Linked DNA regions of Homo sapiens. The protein of the gene in region 5 purifies or fractionates together with the protein of the main gene of each other region. This does not show direct contact. Each region holds a gene or a part of one and is shown on either strand. Other genes may lie near its edges.

Region 1 (3,906 bases), on a different chromosome or scaffold from region 5:
AGGCCTTCATTTTCAGATAAAGTCATCACCATTGCTTCCCTGTCTCCTTCTTTCCCTCTTTGCTTTTCCCTCAGTTTATAAATATTCTCAAGCCTGTCTCTTATGTTTAAATGACAAAAGAGAACAAAACAAAACACTCTCCCTACTTCTTTCTCCTCTGGCTACTCGGTTATCTCGTTTCTTCCTTTCACTGCTAAATTGTTGGAAGGAACCTCCCATTCCCTCTCAGCCCACTGCAGTCTGGCTTCTGCCCTTTCCCTAAGAAACCCAAGTTACTCTCTGAAATCACTGTGACTCTTCTGTGGCCAGAGCCAGTGGACACTGCAGTCCTTTTCTCTGCTCTCTGCAGGGTTAGGTGCCATCTTTCATTCTCCTTTTGGAAAGGCATTTGCTTGAGCTTCCATGCCATGCCTTCCTTCTGGACTTCCTGTACTCCCTTGCCTGCCCCAGATCCACATCTCTGTCTGTCTGAAGCTTCAATTACCACATCAAATGCTGAGGGTCTTCCTGACTGTATACCAGTGTTTGGACTACCTTTTTAATGTCTTCGTTTGAATGTTTCACAGGAACTTCATACAGTTAAACTCATTGTCTCTCCACCCTGGCCTCAGTCCTAATCTTGTTTCTTCTATATTCATCATCTTTAGAGCCCTCAAGGGCAAAACCTGCTGGCCATCCTATACTTTCCTGTCTTTGTCCATCTCTCACATCTGTTTGGTCACCAAGTCCTAAATACTCCACCTCCTTGAGATCTTCTTTGATTTGACTCTGACTCTTCATGTCAGCCACCACTGGTTTAGTTCAGGCCCTTATCGATTCTTATTTGGATTATTGTAATAATTTCCTAACCAGGTTCCTTTTTTCCATTCTTGTTTCTGGCTGTAGTGTGCATTGCTACCAGAAAGATACTGCTATACCAAAATTCTTGATCACGTTGCTCCCAGGCTGAAATGCCTTTAGTAGCTCTCCCGTCACCCTCAAGACTTAATTTGAAGCACAGTGTTTAAGGTCTTTTGGGAATTGTCTCTTGCCTCCCTTTTCAGCCACATCTTGTAATTTCCAGTCTCAGGACAGACTCTCCAGCCAGTGGGAACCTTTTGCAGTTGCTGAAATGCCTCTTCTAGGCAAGATTTCCCTCTGCTTGGAACACCATTCCAAGACCCTTCCCTTCCATTTTTCATCTATGTAGCAAAGAGCTCTGTCTTTTCTTTTAAATATTGCCCTTATTGAAGTATAATATGCATGTGGAAAAGTGTACATATAAAAAATGTATATCTTGGTGCATGTTCATGAATTGAACACACCATGTAACCAGCACCCTGACTGGGCCTCTCTTCTCATACCCTGAACAAGTGATTTCTTGTCACACAAACAATCTCTGCCTCTAGAGCCCCCCTCCCCCCTTGCCCTTCAGGCTCTGTTGGGTCTTTCGCTCCCTGGCAGTTGTCACACTATCTGCAAATTGTATTTTCCTTGCCAGCCTGGCTCTAGACTGTTAAGTCTTCCTTGAGGACAGGGTCTCTCATCTCCCTACCCTGCATGTCATAATAGATATTTAATAAATGTTTTCTGGATGAAGTTCTGAGTTTTGGGGATAAATACTCCTTCCTCACCTTGTGGAGGAGGAACATTGCCTGACGTCTAAAAATTTGCCTCACTGGATCCTGAGGATTTGATCTTGCCCGTGGTTAATGATGGGGTTTATTTAGTTGCGTTTGGGCCAATCAGCTTAAAGGGCTCTGTAGAAATTAGCTCATTAATCCTCACAGATCAAGAGTAAGCACTTTGAGTGCGTCCACCTGCCTGTGTTGTGGAGGTAGGCAGGCAGAGGCCTGGCTCTCCTGAGGTCTTAGGACTGAGAGGTGGCCTTTCTGGCTGGATTAAAGGACCCAGAGCTCCCTGCCACAGTTCTGGCATCCGTAGACATTGTAGGGTGGAGTGGGGAAGTCCCACACTGCCCTTCAAAAGCTCTAGAGCTTTCTTTTCTTTTGTATATCAGTGATCTCTCTCTCTTGCTGTTCATGTATTTATATATAACACTCACCTTGAAGTTCTGTGGAGCCTCTTCCTGTGTAGGAATCAGGGCTGCTGGAGACGATCAGGGATGCAGGTGAAACACAGGAGCAGAATTGCAGAACAAGTGGCTTTCAAAGGTTGTTAGGATGGCAGGAGTTCTATTTTTATAACTTATAAGGGACTGACATGATAGGATGGCTGTGGTACCTGCTAAGACCATAGAACCGGGTCATTCTAATAGATGTTATAATTCCTTTACAGTGTACTTTTTGGGAAAGTTTTTTTTTCCTATTTAAATAAAATTCTCCATGTAATCATGTGAAGTCATACGTTTTCCTCTAGGATAGTTGTGTTTAGATTATACCAAAACAGCTCTTAGTTGAAGTGATTCAAGTGTTTCTTTTTTCCCTATCTGCCATCAATTGGCCAAGTTTTTGATACTAGACAAGAATTCAATATATTAATTAAAAAGTCATTTCAGACTTGGCTTAACTGAAAAGCAGAAGAGAAAAATCCTTTAGAGAATGGATTGGCATACTTTATTTCTAGAGTCGATTTAGATAAATACTTTGGAATCCGATGTGAGTAAATGATATGTTTCACATTTCTTCTCACTTGCCAAACAGTTATTTGAGAATAAACTCTGGCTTAGCTTTAAGAAACTTCTTGGACATTGAGGATTGAGATTAATTGACCTTTTAAACTGATTGTGTATTTTGATATATGGGAAAACATTTTAAGATAGAAATGGTAGAGACCTCTACATTCATATTATCCCTGACTTTATTTTCAAACTTCTTCCAGGTAAGTGGCATTTAGTATAACTCTCAGAAGCCTAGTATTGGGGGTGCTCATGTGATTCTTCCCTTAGGTAAAAAATATACATTTTATTGACATTTATGGGTTTAGGTTTCTAACTTTTAGTTACCACTGGAGCTATTTGTCAGAAAAAACTAGATGGAAAGTAGAGGTGGATGACTTTCTGCCCTGTGAATGATAGATCTTCATTCAGGGAGTATTTTGGAGCCAGTGACCTGTGACAGTTGTGAGACTTCTCATAATCATTCTGTGGATGGTTGGGGTCTTAGAAGAAGTAATGATTTTGTTTTGAACTGGTTGCATCAGTTTGAACCAGAGTTTGTACTAAGGGTATTCCAACTGCTTTATTTCCTACTCTGTTTAGTCTGGGGATTGAAAAAGGATTACATTTTGGGTAGGTTGGTGCCTATTGACCTATCCTGTGTAGCTTAGATTTTAATTTGAATCATCTGGTTCTCTTTCTTTCTCTCAGGCAATGTCACTATCTCTGTTTGTTTAATTATGGGGTGACTCAAGAAAGCAAAGGAAGAGGAGCAGCAGACGGGGTTTCCTGGGGAAGGAATGGCAGGTCATGGCTGGTTTTTATAAGTGAGTTCCTAAGTGAGAAGTGGTACAAGAATATAGAGAGAATTAGGAAATTTAATTTTAGAAGAGACCAAAGGAAAAAAAATCCATCCCAGCTGCTTTGTCTTGTAACTGAAAACTCTCTAATGGCCAAAGTTGAAGAAACTTGCCTATGGTCCCAAAGTCCTTAGAATCCCAGGCTCCAACCCTTCATGCTAAAAACTCTCAATAAATTAGGTATTGATGGGACGTATCTCAAAATAATAAGAGCTATCTATGACAGACCCACAGCCAATATCATACTGAATGGGCAAAAACTGGAAGCATTCCCTTTGAAAACTGGCACAAGACAGGGATGCACTCTCTCACCACTCCTATTCAACATAGTGTTGGAAGTTCTGGCCAGGGCAATCAGGCAGGAGAAGGAAATAAAGGGTATTCAGTTAGGAAAAGAGGAAGTCAAATTGTCCCTGTTTGCAGATGACATGACTGTGTATCTAGAAAACC
Region 2 (3,906 bases), on a different chromosome or scaffold from region 5:
CACCCAGCCTGGAGTGCAATCACGGCTCACTGCAGCTTTGACCTCCTGGGCTCAAGTAATCTGTCCTTAGCCTGTCAGGTAGCTGGGACTGTGGGCGTGTGCCACCATGACCAGCTAATTTATTTACTTACTCGTTTATTTATTTATTTATTTTTTGAGATGGAGTCTCGCTCTGTTGCCCAGGTTGGAGTGCAGTGGCTCGATCTCGGCTCACTGCAAGCTCCACCTCCCGGGTTCACGCCATTCTCCTGCCTCAGCCTCCTGAGTAGCTGGGACTACAGGCACCTGCCACCACGCCCGGCTAATTTTTTTTTTTTTGTATTTTTAGTAGAGACGGGGTTTCACTGTGTTAGCCAGGATGGTCTTGATCTCCTGACCTCATGATCTGCCTGCCTCGGCCTCCCAAAGTGCTGGGATTATAGGCATGAGCCACCGCGCCCGGCCTACTTGTTTATTTTTTGTAGAGACAGGGTCTCACTATGTTGTCCAGGCTTGTCTTCAACTCCTGGGCTCAAGCTGTCCGCCTGCCTTGGCCCCCCAAAGTGTTGGGATTATAGGCATGAGCCATTGTGCCCCGCCCCTCTTCCTGTTTTAGGCTGAATAATACTGCATTGTATGTATATACCACATTTTGTTTATCCGTTCACCTGCTGATGGACACTTGCGTTGCTTCCAGCTTTTGGCTGTTGTTAATAGTGCTGCTATGAACGTAGGTGTACAGGTATCTATTCAAATCCTTGCTTTCAGTTCTTTTGGGTATATACCCAGAAATGGAATTGGCTGGATCCTATGGTAATTCTATTTTTAGAGGAACCACTGCTATATTTTTTCGTGGTAGCCGCACCATTTTACATTCCCACCAACAGTGCACACGTATTCCAGTTTCTCCACGTCTTCACCAGCATTTGTTAATTTTTTTTGTATTTTAATTTATAGTAGTTATTCTGTTGTTTGTGATGTGATATCTTGTGGTTTTGATCTGTGTTTCTCTAATCATTAGTGATGTTGAGGATCCCTTCATGTGTTTGGTGACCATGTGTTTATCTTCTTTGGAGAAATGTCTATTCAGAGACATTCAGAAAATGTCTTTGCCCATTTTTAAATTAGGTGGTTTGGTTTTTGTTGTTGCTAAGTGACAGGAGTTATTCATATATTCTGGATAGTAACCCCTTACCAGATAGATGATTTGCAAATATTTACTTCCATTCCGTGTTATATTTTTGCCTTTTCACTCTGTTGATTGTGTCCTTTGATGCACAGAAGTTTTTAAGTTTGATGTCCCGTTTGTCTATTTTTTATTTTGTTGCCTGTGCTTTTGGTGTCGTGTCCAAGAAACCATTACCAAATTCAGTGTCATGAAGCTTTTCCCTTACATTTTCTTCTAGGAGTTTTATTGTTTTAGCTTTTATGTTTCGTTCTTTGATCCTGAGTTAATTTTGGTATATAGTGTAAGGTAAGGGTCCGATTGCATTCTTTGGCATATGGATATCCAGTTTCCCTGGCACCATTTGCTGAAAATACTGTCTTTTCCCCCACTGAATGGTCTTGGGACCCTTGTCAAAGATCATTTGACCATATATGTGAGGATTTATTCTGTTCCATTGGTCTGTATGTCTGTCTTTATGCCAGCAGCATACTGTTGATTACTATGGCTTTGTAATAAATTTTGAAATCAGGAGTCTGAGACCTCCAACTTTGTTCTTCACCTTCTCTCCCTTTTTTTGTATTCATCATATAATAATCAGCAATAGCCATTTAATCAGAGTTCACTAATTAAATCTTACTCTGTCTAGAGAAATCTGCTGTATTATATCAGAAGGTACTTATTGAGCGCTGGTCCAGGTGCTGGGAATACAGAAATGAACACGGTAGCTTCTTCCTTCAGAGTCAAATTCTTAGTGGCATTGAAAATGGGGAGGGTAGACAGTAAACACAAAAGCAAATAAAATTACTTCAGTTACAAATAAGTGCTGTGAAGATAAGAGTAGCTGGGGGATAAGGAAGTAGCTTATTCTTGGGTGGTTAGGCATGGTCTCTCTGAGAAGGTGCTACTTCATTGAGACCTGCTGGTGAGAAAGGCAGCCATGCAAAGATTTGGAGGAATAGCGTTGTAAGGAGTAGCAACAGCAAAATCAAGAGGTCCCAATTTTGTGAATAATTTCACTGAGATTTGTATGTTAAACCAGATTAGATTTTCACTGAGGTATGTGTCTGTTAAGCCAGATTAGATTACCTTCTAGAATAAATCCTTTAGTTCTTCAGATTGAAATTGCCTTTGAAGTGTGATTAGAAGTTATCTCTCACATCCCGGAGATTACATTCTTGGACGGGACTTGAGCTTTCTGTGACATTGATGATGGACTCATGAGCCTGATTGTTGCCCAATTGTCTAGGTAGTGGATGTTGAACTCCATCGCCATTCTCTCGGAGAAGACTGTATCTATCCTCAGTCCTCGGAGTCTGACATCTCTGATGCCCCTCCATCTTTGCCTTTGACCATTCCAGCCCCAGTGAAAGCTTCTTCACCAATAAAGCAGTCACATGAGCCAGTACCCGATACCTCTGTGGAGAAAGGTAATACAGCAGTTTTCCTTGCATAGCGTTGTTCTGAGGCATTCCTTTCCCATTTGCTGCTTTCAGAGACCTATAGTATATGGAAAATAACTTTGCTATAAGTGGACATGCTGCCTCTACTACACAGTTCTGTTATGAAAGCCAAATTTCCACTCTTGTCAAAAATATTTTTCCGGCCGGGAGCTGTGGTTCACACCTGTAATCCCAGCACTTTGGGAGGCCAAGGCGGGTGGATCATGAGGTCAGGAGATTAAGACCATCCTGACTAACACGGTGAAACCCCGTCTCTACTAAAAATACAAAAATTTAGCTGGGTGTGATGGTGGGTGCCTGTAGTCCCAGCTACTCGGGAGGCTGAGGCAGGAGAATGGCTCGAACCCGGGAGGTGGAGCTTGCAGTGAGCTGAGATGGTACCACTGCACTCCAGCCTGGACAACAGAGCGAGACTCCATCTCAAAAAAAAAAAAAAAAATTTCCATGAAGTTTTACTGACATATTATAAAATGTAAAAATAGCTAAAAAACATAAGATTTTTAAATTTATTTTTATTTTATTTTATTTTGAGATGGAGTCTTGCTCTGTTGCCCAGGCTGGAGTGCAGTGGCATGATCTCGCCTCACTGCAACCTCCACCTCCTGGGTTCAAGCAATTCTCCTGCCTCAGCCTCCCTGTTAGCTAGGATTACAGGCGTCCACCACCGCTCTCGGCTAATTTTTGTATTTTTAGTAGAGATGGGTTTTCACCATGTTGGCCAGGCTGGTCTCGAACTCATGACCTCAGGTGATCCACCCACCTTGGCCTCCCAAAGTGCTGGGATTACAGGCATGACCCACCACGCCTGGCCTAAAACAGATTTTTATCACTTGATAATTCCTTATAATGTATTACAGGAAGACTTTATGGTTCAGCTTCTGATTGTGCGAGCAAGAAACTTGGATATTAAATACCTGGTTTTACTTAAGAAAAGATTCATCACCAACAATGTATTTTGACCATGCCATTTTTAAATTTAACAAATATATGTGTATAAATACATATTTTAATGTTCCCATATATAAGCATAAAAGATATAAAATTGATCTTAAATGTTTTATTTCTAAGCCTATATTTTAATGTGGTTAGTATTATAGTTCTTTTATAAAATCTCAACTTTATTCCTCTTTAGATTTCAATTGCATCTTTTTTATGGGCATTTAATAAGATACAAGAGGGGCCGGGCACGGTGGCTCATGCCTGTAATTCCCAGCCTTTTGGGAGGCTGAAACCATCGGATCACCTGAGGTCAGGAGTTCAAGACCAGCCTGGCCAACATGGCAAAACCCCGTCTCTACT
Region 3 (3,906 bases), on a different chromosome or scaffold from region 5:
CGCTGTGACTGCACAGACCACAGTAATGATAGTAGTCATTGCTGTCATTTATTGAGCATCTACTAGTTGTGTTCCTCACAATAACCCTAAAAAAACAGAAATTATTACCCACGTGTTTCAGACAAGGACACATACTGAGAAGAGAGTGGCCTGAGATAACACAACTAGGAATTGGCATAGCTGGGCCTTAGAGCCAGGTCTGTCAGGCTCCCCCACCTCTGCACTGCCACCGTGTACCCTTTTATGAATGGCTTTCAGGAGATAATGTCTTTAACCCAGCAGAGGAAAGCTCTGATGGTGGAATGGCAGGCACTGGCAGGGGAGCAAGATGTCTCAATGGGGGTGGACTTGATAGCTTCTTTCCTCCTATGCCTGTGGTCCTGTCTGTCATTCAGACAGATTTCCAGGGCAGAGATGCCCCTAGGCCTGAAGGCAGGGCATCGATGGAGACGATGGATTTAGAGCCTGATGGGGTACTTGGAACAAGATGGGATGGTAAATGAGATTGGACAGGCATGCGGGGGCCTTGAATGCCAAGCCAGGGAGGTGGGACACTTGTCAGTAATAGAGAGCTAAGGATGTGTGTTCGTGGGTGGCCTACTGTGGGGGTGACAGTGATCCATTAGAGGGGATGGCTGCTGAGCTGCCCGGTGGCCGTGGCCCACTGTGGCTGTCCAGACACCACCCTGTGGGTCCAAGTGGTCCACAGAGTGGTATGGGCAAGGCCATGCTGGGCTCTGAGCCTGTGCCTTGGGGTGCTCCCAGGCAAGACTGTCCCCCTCTGAGCCTCCTGTGTGCCTCCACAGGTGATAGGGCTGGGCCTCGTGGACCTGAATCTCAGCTCTGCTGTTCCTCGCTGTGTGCCCTGAGAGTCTCACCCGCTCTGAGTCTTAGTCTTATCGTCTGTAAAATGGAGCTTGGCAGTACCTTCACTTTTGAGGTGATGGTAAAGACTGCACGAGCCCTTGACTTTCAGGGAGATTGTCAGGTAGAAAGCCACACAAACCCAGCATTTCCTCTTTATTAATCCTGCCTGGAAGCCTTTGGAATCAGGACCCTTGAGAGGCAGAGATCGGGGGAGAGAAGAGGCCAAAGGGAGGCTCTGTCCCTTCTCCCTTCTGGAGTCCCAGTAAACGAAACATCACATAGCCAAACCTGATGCCAAAAGATGAGTTTTGTGCCCCAAATTGATTCTCCAAGTCTACATGAAGACTTGGAAGTCTGTTTTTTCCCTGGTACAGTCCAGACAATTAAGGGTCTGGAGGCAGAGGGGAGGACCCTAGTTTAACTCCAAGTATTTCCTTAACTTGGGGCAAGCCACTTCCTCTATCTAAACCCCAGTTTTCTCATCTCTATAATGGGGAAATAATCCCTGTCTCAAAAGGTCGTCATGAAGCTAAAATAAGATTATGGGTTTGACATGCTTAGCCCCATCCGTAGCACTCAGTAGATGCCCATTAAAAGGTAGGGAATGTTCCCCATAGGGTATCTATAAATGCTGATCATCAAAAAGTGAAGCACAGTGCCCAGCTCTCTCTCCTCCCTGTCCCTTCTCCCCCGAGCCACAGACCTGTCCTGGGAGATGAGGGTTCCACGTGTGTCTTGTTCCTGCCCCAGAGAGTGAAGACGAGTACAGCGATGACGATGACATGAGCTGGAAGGTGCGCCGGGCAGCTGCCAAGTGCATCGCAGCCTTGATCAGCTCGCGGCCTGACCTGCTGCCCGATTTCCACTGCACCCTGGCACCTGTGCTCATCCGCCGCTTCAAAGAACGCGAGGAGAACGTCAAGGCTGACGTCTTCACTGCTTACATCGTGCTGCTGCGGCAAACACAGCCCCCGAAGGGATGGCTGGAGGCCATGGAGGAACCCACCCAGACCGGCAGCAACCTCCATATGCTACGTGGACAGGTGGGCGTGCCTTCACCTCCACCCCTACCCCCGATTTGCCTACCCAGCCACTCACTGTTAGTGTCCCTGGACTTGGAAACTCAGCTGGGAGAACATCCAGCCATGGAAGGGAAGGGAAGGGGTCCCTGGGGTGGGGGGCGGGAGCCAGCCAGGCTTCTGGAGTGTAGTAGTGACAGCCAGCCTGCCTGAGTGAGCTTGAGCAAGTTGCTTGGTCTCTCTGTACCTGTAAAATGGACGCAGAAAATTTGCCTACTCTCCAAGGGTCTGTGTGCGGTCACCAAAAGCCTGGCACAGAGTGAGGGACGAGTGCTTGGGAGATATCTTGATGCCGACATCCTCCCTGGGGATGTGTCTGGCAAAGCCTCCTGGTAGTGGGCAGGTGGGTAGGTTTCTTGGGTGTTCCCTGACCTTGACTTCCCCCTCCTGCCCACAGGTGCCCCTTGTGGTCAAGGCCCTGCAGCGGCAGCTTAAAGATCGGAGCGTCAGAGCCCGCCAGGGATGCTTCAGCCTCCTCACCGAGCTGGCGGGTGTCCTCCCAGGCAGCCTGGCCGAGCATATGCCTGTGCTGGTATCAGGTAGGCTGGACTGCAACCAGGTATCTGCTGTTCTGGGCCACTTCCAGAACCCAGACCCCACCCCTGAGTTGAGCCCCCAGTTCCTGAGACAGTCTGAGACCCAATCCCAGGCTCAGTCCCTGGTCAAGAGTCTCCAGTGGCCTCCCACTACCAGCAGTGAGAACAAGGCTGGCTCCAGTGAGTTCCCTGGACATGTTTCCCTCAGCCCTGGCCACTGGTCAGGGCTGACTTCTTGGAAACTTCTGCAGAAGAGTTTAGGTGCTTCAGTCCAGCTCAGGCACTTGTAGGTACCCCAGCCTTGCTTCCAGGGAGGGCCGTGTTGCATCAGAGGCGGTGGCCTCATAACCTTTGCATTCACCCTGCAGGCATCATCTTCTCGCTGGCCGACCGCTCCAGCTCCTCCACCATCCGGATGGATGCCCTGGCCTTCTTGCAGGGGCTGCTGGGCACCGAACCAGCTGAGGCCTTCCACCCACACTTGCCTATCCTCCTGCCACCTGTGATGGCCTGTGTGGCTGACTCTTTCTACAAGATTGCAGCCGAGGCCCTGGTGGTGCTGCAGGAGCTGGTGCGGGCCCTGTGGCCGCTGCACAGGCCTCGGATGCTGGATCCTGAGCCATATGTTGGAGAGATGTCTGCTGTCACCCTGGCGCGACTTCGTGCCACTGACCTGGACCAGGAGGTGAAGGAGCGGGCCATTTCCTGCATGGGCCACCTTGTAGGCCACCTGGGTGACCGGCTTGGGGATGACCTGGAGCCCACGTTACTGCTCCTCCTGGACCGCCTGCGGAATGAGATCACCCGGCTGCCCGCCATCAAGGCGCTTACGCTGGTGGCCGTATCCCCACTACAGCTTGACCTACAGCCCATCCTGGCCGAGGCACTGCACATTCTGGCCTCATTCCTGCGGAAGAACCAGCGGGCTTTGCGACTGGCCACACTGGCAGCCCTGGACGCCCTGGCCCAGAGCCAGGGCCTCAGCCTCCCACCGTCTGCCGTGCAGGCCGTGCTGGCTGAGCTGCCTGCCCTGGTCAACGAGAGCGACATGCATGTGGCCCAGCTGGCTGTGGACTTCCTTGCCACAGTGACCCAGGCCCAGCCAGCCTCTTTGGTGGAGGTCAGTGGCCCTGTGCTCTCAGAGCTGCTGCGGCTGCTGCGTTCGCCCCTGTTGCCAGCCGGGGTTCTGGCAGCTGCTGAAGGCTTCCTGCAGGCCCTGGTAGGGACCCGTCCCCCGTGTGTGGACTATGCCAAACTCATCAGCCTGCTCACTGCGCCTGTTTATGAGCAGGCTGTGGATGGTGGGCCTGGCCTGCACAAGCAGGTGTTCCACTCATTGGCCCGGTGTGTGGCAGCCCTCTCAGCTGCCTGTCCCCAAGAGGCGGCAAGCACAGCCAGTCGCCTGGTCTGCGATGCCAGGTCGC
Region 4 (3,906 bases), on a different chromosome or scaffold from region 5:
TTGGGAGTTTGGGACACAAAATTTAACATTTAGGATTTTTTCCTTTTTTGACTTGTCACAAATCCCAAACCATGTAAAAACAAGCAATTATATACACATTAAAACATACTCACAAAGAACATAAAAATGTTATTAAGCCCTTAATTTGGACACAAAAATGAAATGGGCTTTGCTGTTTTCATTAGGCTGATTCTCTTTTCCCTAAAGGAAAGAGTCTAAAAGTCTCTGCCTGGTAACAAAATCTATAATCTGGTCCAAATCGAATTTACTGATTTTGAATCCCATTGTTCTCCACCTACTTCAGTCATACTGGCCTACTCACAGTTATCTCCCAAACTCATCAAGCTCATGATACCTTTGCTCACTCAGGTTCCCTCATCCAGAACGTGTTTCCTTTTCTCCATTCATGTTAATCCTCCCATTTTTAAAGGCATGGCTTGTTTTACTGCCTTTTTCTATTCTTCCCCGGATTACTCTATCTCATGATGGTTTCTCCTCTCTCTAACTCCCTTGGCTCATTCTAACATGCAAAAACTTGCTTTTTATTGTTGTTTACTTTAAAAAAAATATTTTGCATTGTGAAATATAATGTACACACAGAAGAATAAACAAAACAAAGTAAAAAGCTTAATTATTCCAAAGTGAAGATCTATGGCCCAGGTGCAGTGGCTCACGCTTGTAATCCCAGCACTTTGGGAGGCCAAGGCAGGTGGATCACTTGAGATCAGGAGTTCAAGACTAGCCTGGCTAACATGCTGAAAACCCTTCCCTACTAAGAATACAAAAATTAGCCAGGAGGGACAGAGCAAGACTCCGTATCAAAAATAAATAAATAAATAAAAAAGGCCGGGAGCAGTAGTTTACGCCTGTAATCCCAGCACTTTGGGAGGCCACACCTATAATCCCAGCACTTTGGGAGGCCAAGTTGGGTGGGTCGCCTGAGAGGTCAGGAGTTCAAGACCAGCCTGACCAATATGGTGAAACCCCATCTCTACTAAAAATACAAAAATTAGCCAGGCATGGTGGCGGGTGCCTGTAATCCCAGCTACTCAGGAGATTGAGACAGGAGAATTGCTTGAACTCGGGAGGCGCAGGTTGCAGTGAGCCAAGATGGTGCCACTATACTCCAACCTGGGTGACAGAGCAAGACTCTGTCTTAAAAACAAAAACAAAAACAAAAACAAAACTATGAAACTTCCTCTAGGTCCAGAAACAGAAAATTGTTACTATCTAGAAATCCTCTCCATTTTCCTTCCTAATTACTAACACCCTTTTCCTTCCCCTATCCCTTACAAAAAGATAATCACTATTCTAAAAACTATAGTAATTCCTGGCTTGATTTTGTTTATAATTGTACCACCTAAATATGCAACCTCAAATACAATAGTTTTTTGAGTTTCATATAAATGGAATCATACAGTATGTATATTTTTGTGTTTGGCTTTTTTTATTGAACATAATGTGAGAAATATACATGTTGTATAACAATGTTCATTTTCATTCTGTATAGAAAACATATTTATACTCATTTAAACAAATGGATGACTCTTTTTTTTTTTTGATGATTCATTTTTATCCATTCTGCTGTTGATGGACCTTCGGGTTACTTAACTTTTAAAAAGTATGTATCTTTTTGTCTCTCCAGCTAGAATGCAAGTTTCTTGAAGGCAGGGACCATATACTATACTATTTTATATTTACCTTAGTATTAATATTTAGCATAATCCTAAGCACATAATGGGTGTCCTCAATCACATTAAATATTGATTAAATGAATCTATTGATAGTTTGAGAGATAAGAAAAAAATAAGTACAGTTGGGAATCAATTTAATATTTTTAGAGATAGTTATGTAACTGGCCTTTTGTAACTACTACTATTTAAATAAATCACAAAGTTTGACCTCTTCTATTCATTTACACCTAAGGATTTATTGTCTTTTATTCTTCCTGAGCCAAATGAAAGCTAAATATTTGTTAACTATCCTCAAAAATAAAATTAGAGCAATTCAAAAGGTGGTTAATTGTTATGTGCTATTATTTATTATTTTTTGAGGCCTTGCTCTGTTGTTCAGGCTGGAGTGCAGTGACACAATCCTGGTTCACTGAAGCCTCGACCTCCGAGGCTTAAGCCATCCTCTTGACTCAGCCTCCTGAGTAGCTAGGACTACAGGCATGTGCCACCATGTCCAGCTAATTTTTTTGTTTTAAATTTTTTGTAGAGATGGTGTCTCACCATGTTGCCCAGGCTGGTCTTGAACTCCTGGGCCCAAGCAATCCTCTTACCTTGGCCTCCCAAGTGTTAGGATTACAGGAATTAGCCATTGCATCCAGCCATCTGCTTATTTTGTACAGTATCTCACCAATATGTTAAGTACTCACCATGGCCATAGCTCTTAATGAGCTGCTTTATTTTTTATTCTATTTCCTAAAATTTATATTAACCATTATAAACACATGAAGACAAGCCCAAAAGCAAAAATTCCAGTGCATAAGGTCAGCAGGAAATTAATCATTCCTATTCAAAGCTAAAACAAACCAAATAGCTTTTAGTTCTATATCCTCTTTTTATACAGTCAGTGACTGTTTCCTAGGTAATGTGTAAACGTCTCAAAAGAGTATTTATATCACCTAATCTTCAGTCCTATTCTGACATTCTCTTGGAGAGCTGGTTTTGCCTTTTCGTTTATTTGCCTTTTATAAAACTGAAGGCTCATCAACTTCTCAGCAAACAGGAAAATATATTTCCGGGCAAGAATTTCTGATATACCTACATCTTGGCCAGGTACACATAAGCATGTCTCTAATATTAGTTTTAACAATACACAGACTATAACTGGTCTGTAAATTTTGTTCAAGTTGGTAATTTAACAAGAAAAAAAGTAAAAAGGAAAATAGTAAATAAATGAAAGGCAAAATCTAAACAACAATGGTATTTCCAAGTCGAAGAATTATGTAGAAAAGAAGAGCTGTTACTACTTGTATGCAGCCAATTCACTTCTAGCTAAGGATAATTATCAAAGCCAAATTTAGTACTTTTAAAATCTAAAATAACATTCTAATTTTGTATGTTTTCAAAACTGAGGCCAGTAATAAATATACCTCTTTCTTTTCTTGCAGGCGGTGGGCGAGGGGGGGCGGTTATTTAAGGCTTTCCTGGAAAGAAAGCAGATTGTTTAAAATGTTACCTTCGTAACTTCTTCATGAGGGAATAGTGTGATGAGAAAACACAGCAAAAAGTTACAAATGAAGGATGATGATGTATACTAGTAGAGAAGCCAGGGAAATTTCTGGTTATATCACAAGACTCAGGACCTTAAGACTAACTGTACTATAAAATAAATGTTCCATTAAATAAGGAGACATTTAGGGAAAAAAGAGAAAAGCTAAAATTATTTTTAAAAATTTTCAAAAATTAAAATAATCCTCAATTGTTTATGTATGTGTGTGTGTGTGTGTGTGTGTATATATATATATATATATATATATATATTTTTTTTTTTTTTTTTTTTTTTTTTTTTTGAGGCAGGGTCTCACTCTGTCATCCAGGCTGGAGTGCAGTGGTGCAATCTTGGCTCATTGCAACCTCCGCCTCCCAGGTTCAAGTGATTCTCCTGCCTCAGCCTCCCGAGTACCTGGGATTACAGGCACCCGCCGCCACACATGGCTAATTTTTTATTTTTAGTAGAGACGGGGTTTCACCATGTTGGCCAGGCTAGTCTTGAACTCCTGGCCTCAAGTGATTCACTCACCTCGGCTCCCCAAAGTGCTGGGATTACAGGCGTGAGCCACCGCGTAATCCAACTGTTGATATTTGCCTTATAAAGATGCACAGAGGAAAATAAAAAATTATTTCTGCTATAAGAAACCTACCAATTGTTTATTTCTGTAAGGCAACTAATCACACA
Region 5 (2,623 bases):
GATTGTTCCCTTTAGTCGCTGTGACATTGTTACCTTTAGTGGCATGCACTTGGAAATGTCAGCCTTCAGAGAAGGGGGAGTTACATGGAGTAAGGCCTCATGGATGTCATGGTGGTCCTCCATGTTCACCAACCACCAAGAAAATTCTTCTTCAGTCCACAATTCCAGCTTGCGCTCTTTGGTGCACTTGGAGCCAGAAAGTGTCTTTTTGGCCCTGTTTTGTAGAAACCGTGCATGTACCAAAGAGAAACTTTAGAGTTTGGATGGAGCTGAAGCATTGATGGGAATTCCCTAGTGCACCCAGGAGCAGGAGGCAAGCCCAAGCCTCGGGTGGTAGCCAATTATATTTTGTGATCGTGTATGTACTTAAAACATCAGAGATGACACAGCACATGAATATAACTATTGATATGTAGGTGCATACTGAGTATTCTAAGTAGCAGATAGATACCAAAATACTGTATAATCCCAGAATTGCCTAAACTGCAGGTTTGCTAGTTCTCTGTTATACAGACCAGTAGGTAGCCTTTCCACACATTTGTGTTTTCTCTTCCATAATAAGAGAGTGCTGCGGCTGGCAGGCAAAGGTAGTTGCCTCATGCACTTTATCTTTTTGTCTTTTTCTCTTCTTCATCTTTTGGGATGCTGCTGGCTGTATCTGTCCCAAACTTCTTGTTGCATTAGAATCAGATCTGTGTATGTTTGAGGAGGTTTTATTTTAAAGACTTCAGTTTTACTCAGCTCTAGGAAGGGTCAAATACAACAACAACAACAAAAAACAGAAAACAAAAAACCCTCCCTAGGTGTTTGCTTTTGCAACATTAAAAAAAATGCCTTGGTGCTAAAAAGTATTTAATGACGCATGTTCACCACTAAAAAGCGCCACTGAATTCACAGTATTTCACTGCTAAGTGGCTGCATGTACTTTGTGTTTGGAAATCTGAAGAATTTTCCAGAAAACAAGCATCCATTACTCTCATTTCAACAGTTACTCCATCTATGCTGCAAAAATGAAGCGTGAAAGGGGGGATACTTTTCTATGGAATACTCAGTGCTTTTGATATTTATTTTAGCAAGAATAATCAGATGCCAAAAATAATTTCAGAGAAAGGTAGAAAAAATATTTCAGGTAACCTTTTCTTATTTCTTCTCCAAAAAGATTACACCCATGTAAGGTATTTTTAACACTGGGGTTTTGAAGGTGTTATCTTTTCTGGTATCCTATCACTACATGTTAAAATTGAAGGAGAAAATATTATTGAAACTAAAGTAATTGCAGGGACACATTAAACCAAAGGGGTGAACAAAAGAGGTTTAAAGTTTGTATCTAGAAATGAAAAATAAGAATCATTGGTAAGACTAGTACCGATTATTGGCAATTGGTAATTGATAATTGGTAAGAGTAGTACCAAATAATGGGCATTTTTCTTAAAATACATACCTCTACCCCAAACCCCAAATGTTAATTTAGAATCCTGAAACAGGCAAGTCAGGCTCTGACTCTTTTGTTTAAGGAAATGTAATACTGTGTCAACTAAACTGGCATTAGGTTCTTAGTGGAGTGTGTGTTTGTGTGTGTGTGTGTGTGTTTTGTGTAGAGGTATGTTTGTGATGAAAGGTTTTGCACTGTTGCATAAAGAAGTTTGATTTTGTGATTTTTAAAATGATATTCATTTGGAGACTTTTTAAGGTAATTTAAAAGATGTATAATTTCCGTGTGTTTAATGAAATCTGTTGTCGATGTACTAATCTTGGTTTACAGCATCTTGAATACTTGATTATTGAAAATTAAGAAAAAAGTTAAAAATGAATAAAGTGTGTTGGACTGAAATGAAATTGTTTCTAGAACTTTGTTGTTTGAAGGGATGAAGCAATGAGACCAATGCGATTGTCCACCCCTCCTACATCATTAACTCCTTACCTAACTGTTAACTCTACATTGAAGCAGAATGTTCTATGTGTAAAGTTTTAGGAGTATAGTTTAAAGAGCCATAGCATGTTTTTTTTTATTGAGTCTCCAAAGAGAATAATTTTAAGTAATTCATCACTTACTTATTGAAATTCAAAACAGACTTTCAGAACACAGAGCTATGTACCTTGAATGTGATTTGTTAAGTTATACTTAAATAACATATTAACCCTGAAATCTCAATGGCTTCATAACACACAGGTCTGTTTCTCATTCACTTACATATCTATTATGGCTCTGTTCCACATAGTCTTTCAGGGATCCAGGCTGACAGAGGCTCCACCATCTTGAAGTGGCACCACCTGGAACTTTCATCGTTAATATTGGTTGCTGGGGCAAAGAAAGGAAATGCCCTGAGAATGGCAAAAGAGCTTTTCTCTTTCTCAGCCTGGAAGTGCCATGTGTCTATTCTCCCATTTCATTGGCCCTAAGTAGTCTCATGGCTCTGCCTAAGAGCCTGAGGTCCTGAAAATATAGAGGAGTAAATGGTAAGAATTCAGTGGGTATAATTCTTTGCCACATGGTTGACTTTGATAGGTTAAGAATAATTTCCAAAGAAGTCCAACTCATTATTCCAAAAACTGGAATAATTTCTAAAGGCATGAATATCAAAACTTGGTCAACAAAGCACTGAAAATCTCCCTTCCTCCTGTC

What was found.
Region 1: the proteins of SLCO5A1 (region 5) and STK39 purify together in Homo sapiens (affinity purification with mass spectrometry; one large-scale study listed by BioGRID and IntAct). This does not show direct contact.
Region 2: the proteins of SLCO5A1 (region 5) and YEATS2 purify together in Homo sapiens (affinity purification with mass spectrometry; one large-scale study listed by BioGRID and IntAct). This does not show direct contact.
Region 3: the proteins of SLCO5A1 (region 5) and CAND2 purify together in Homo sapiens (affinity purification with mass spectrometry; one large-scale study listed by BioGRID and IntAct). This does not show direct contact.
Region 4: the proteins of SLCO5A1 (region 5) and GOLPH3L purify together in Homo sapiens (affinity purification with mass spectrometry; one large-scale study listed by BioGRID and IntAct). This does not show direct contact.

What each region holds. Positions count from the first base shown.
Region 1 is NC_000002.12:168,237,357-168,241,262, reverse strand, and holds part of STK39 (STE20/SPS1-related proline-alanine-rich protein kinase), read left to right. Parts: intron 1-3,906. UniProt on the Homo sapiens protein: Effector serine/threonine-protein kinase component of the WNK-SPAK/OSR1 kinase cascade, which is involved in various processes, such as ion transport, response to hypertonic stress and blood pressure.
Region 2 is NC_000003.12:183,749,680-183,753,585, forward strand, and holds part of YEATS2 (YEATS domain-containing protein 2), read left to right. Parts: intron 1-2,393; coding exon 2,394-2,574; intron 2,575-3,906. UniProt on the Homo sapiens protein: Chromatin reader component of the ATAC complex, a complex with histone acetyltransferase activity on histones H3 and H4. YEATS2 specifically recognizes and binds histone H3 crotonylated at 'Lys-27' (H3K27cr).
Region 3 is NC_000003.12:12,813,524-12,817,429, forward strand, and holds part of CAND2 (cullin-associated NEDD8-dissociated protein 2), read left to right. Parts: intron 1-1,617; coding exon 1,618-1,910; intron 1,911-2,343; coding exon 2,344-2,485; intron 2,486-2,850; coding exon 2,851-3,906.
Region 4 is NC_000001.11:150,690,358-150,694,263, forward strand, and holds part of GOLPH3L (Golgi phosphoprotein 3-like), read right to left. Parts: intron 1-3,906. UniProt on the Homo sapiens protein: Phosphatidylinositol-4-phosphate-binding protein that may antagonize the action of GOLPH3 which is required for the process of vesicle budding at the Golgi and anterograde transport to the plasma membrane.
Region 5 is NC_000008.11:69,666,254-69,668,876, reverse strand, and holds the end of SLCO5A1 (solute carrier organic anion transporter family member 5A1), read left to right. Parts: 3' UTR 1-1,831; downstream 1,832-2,623.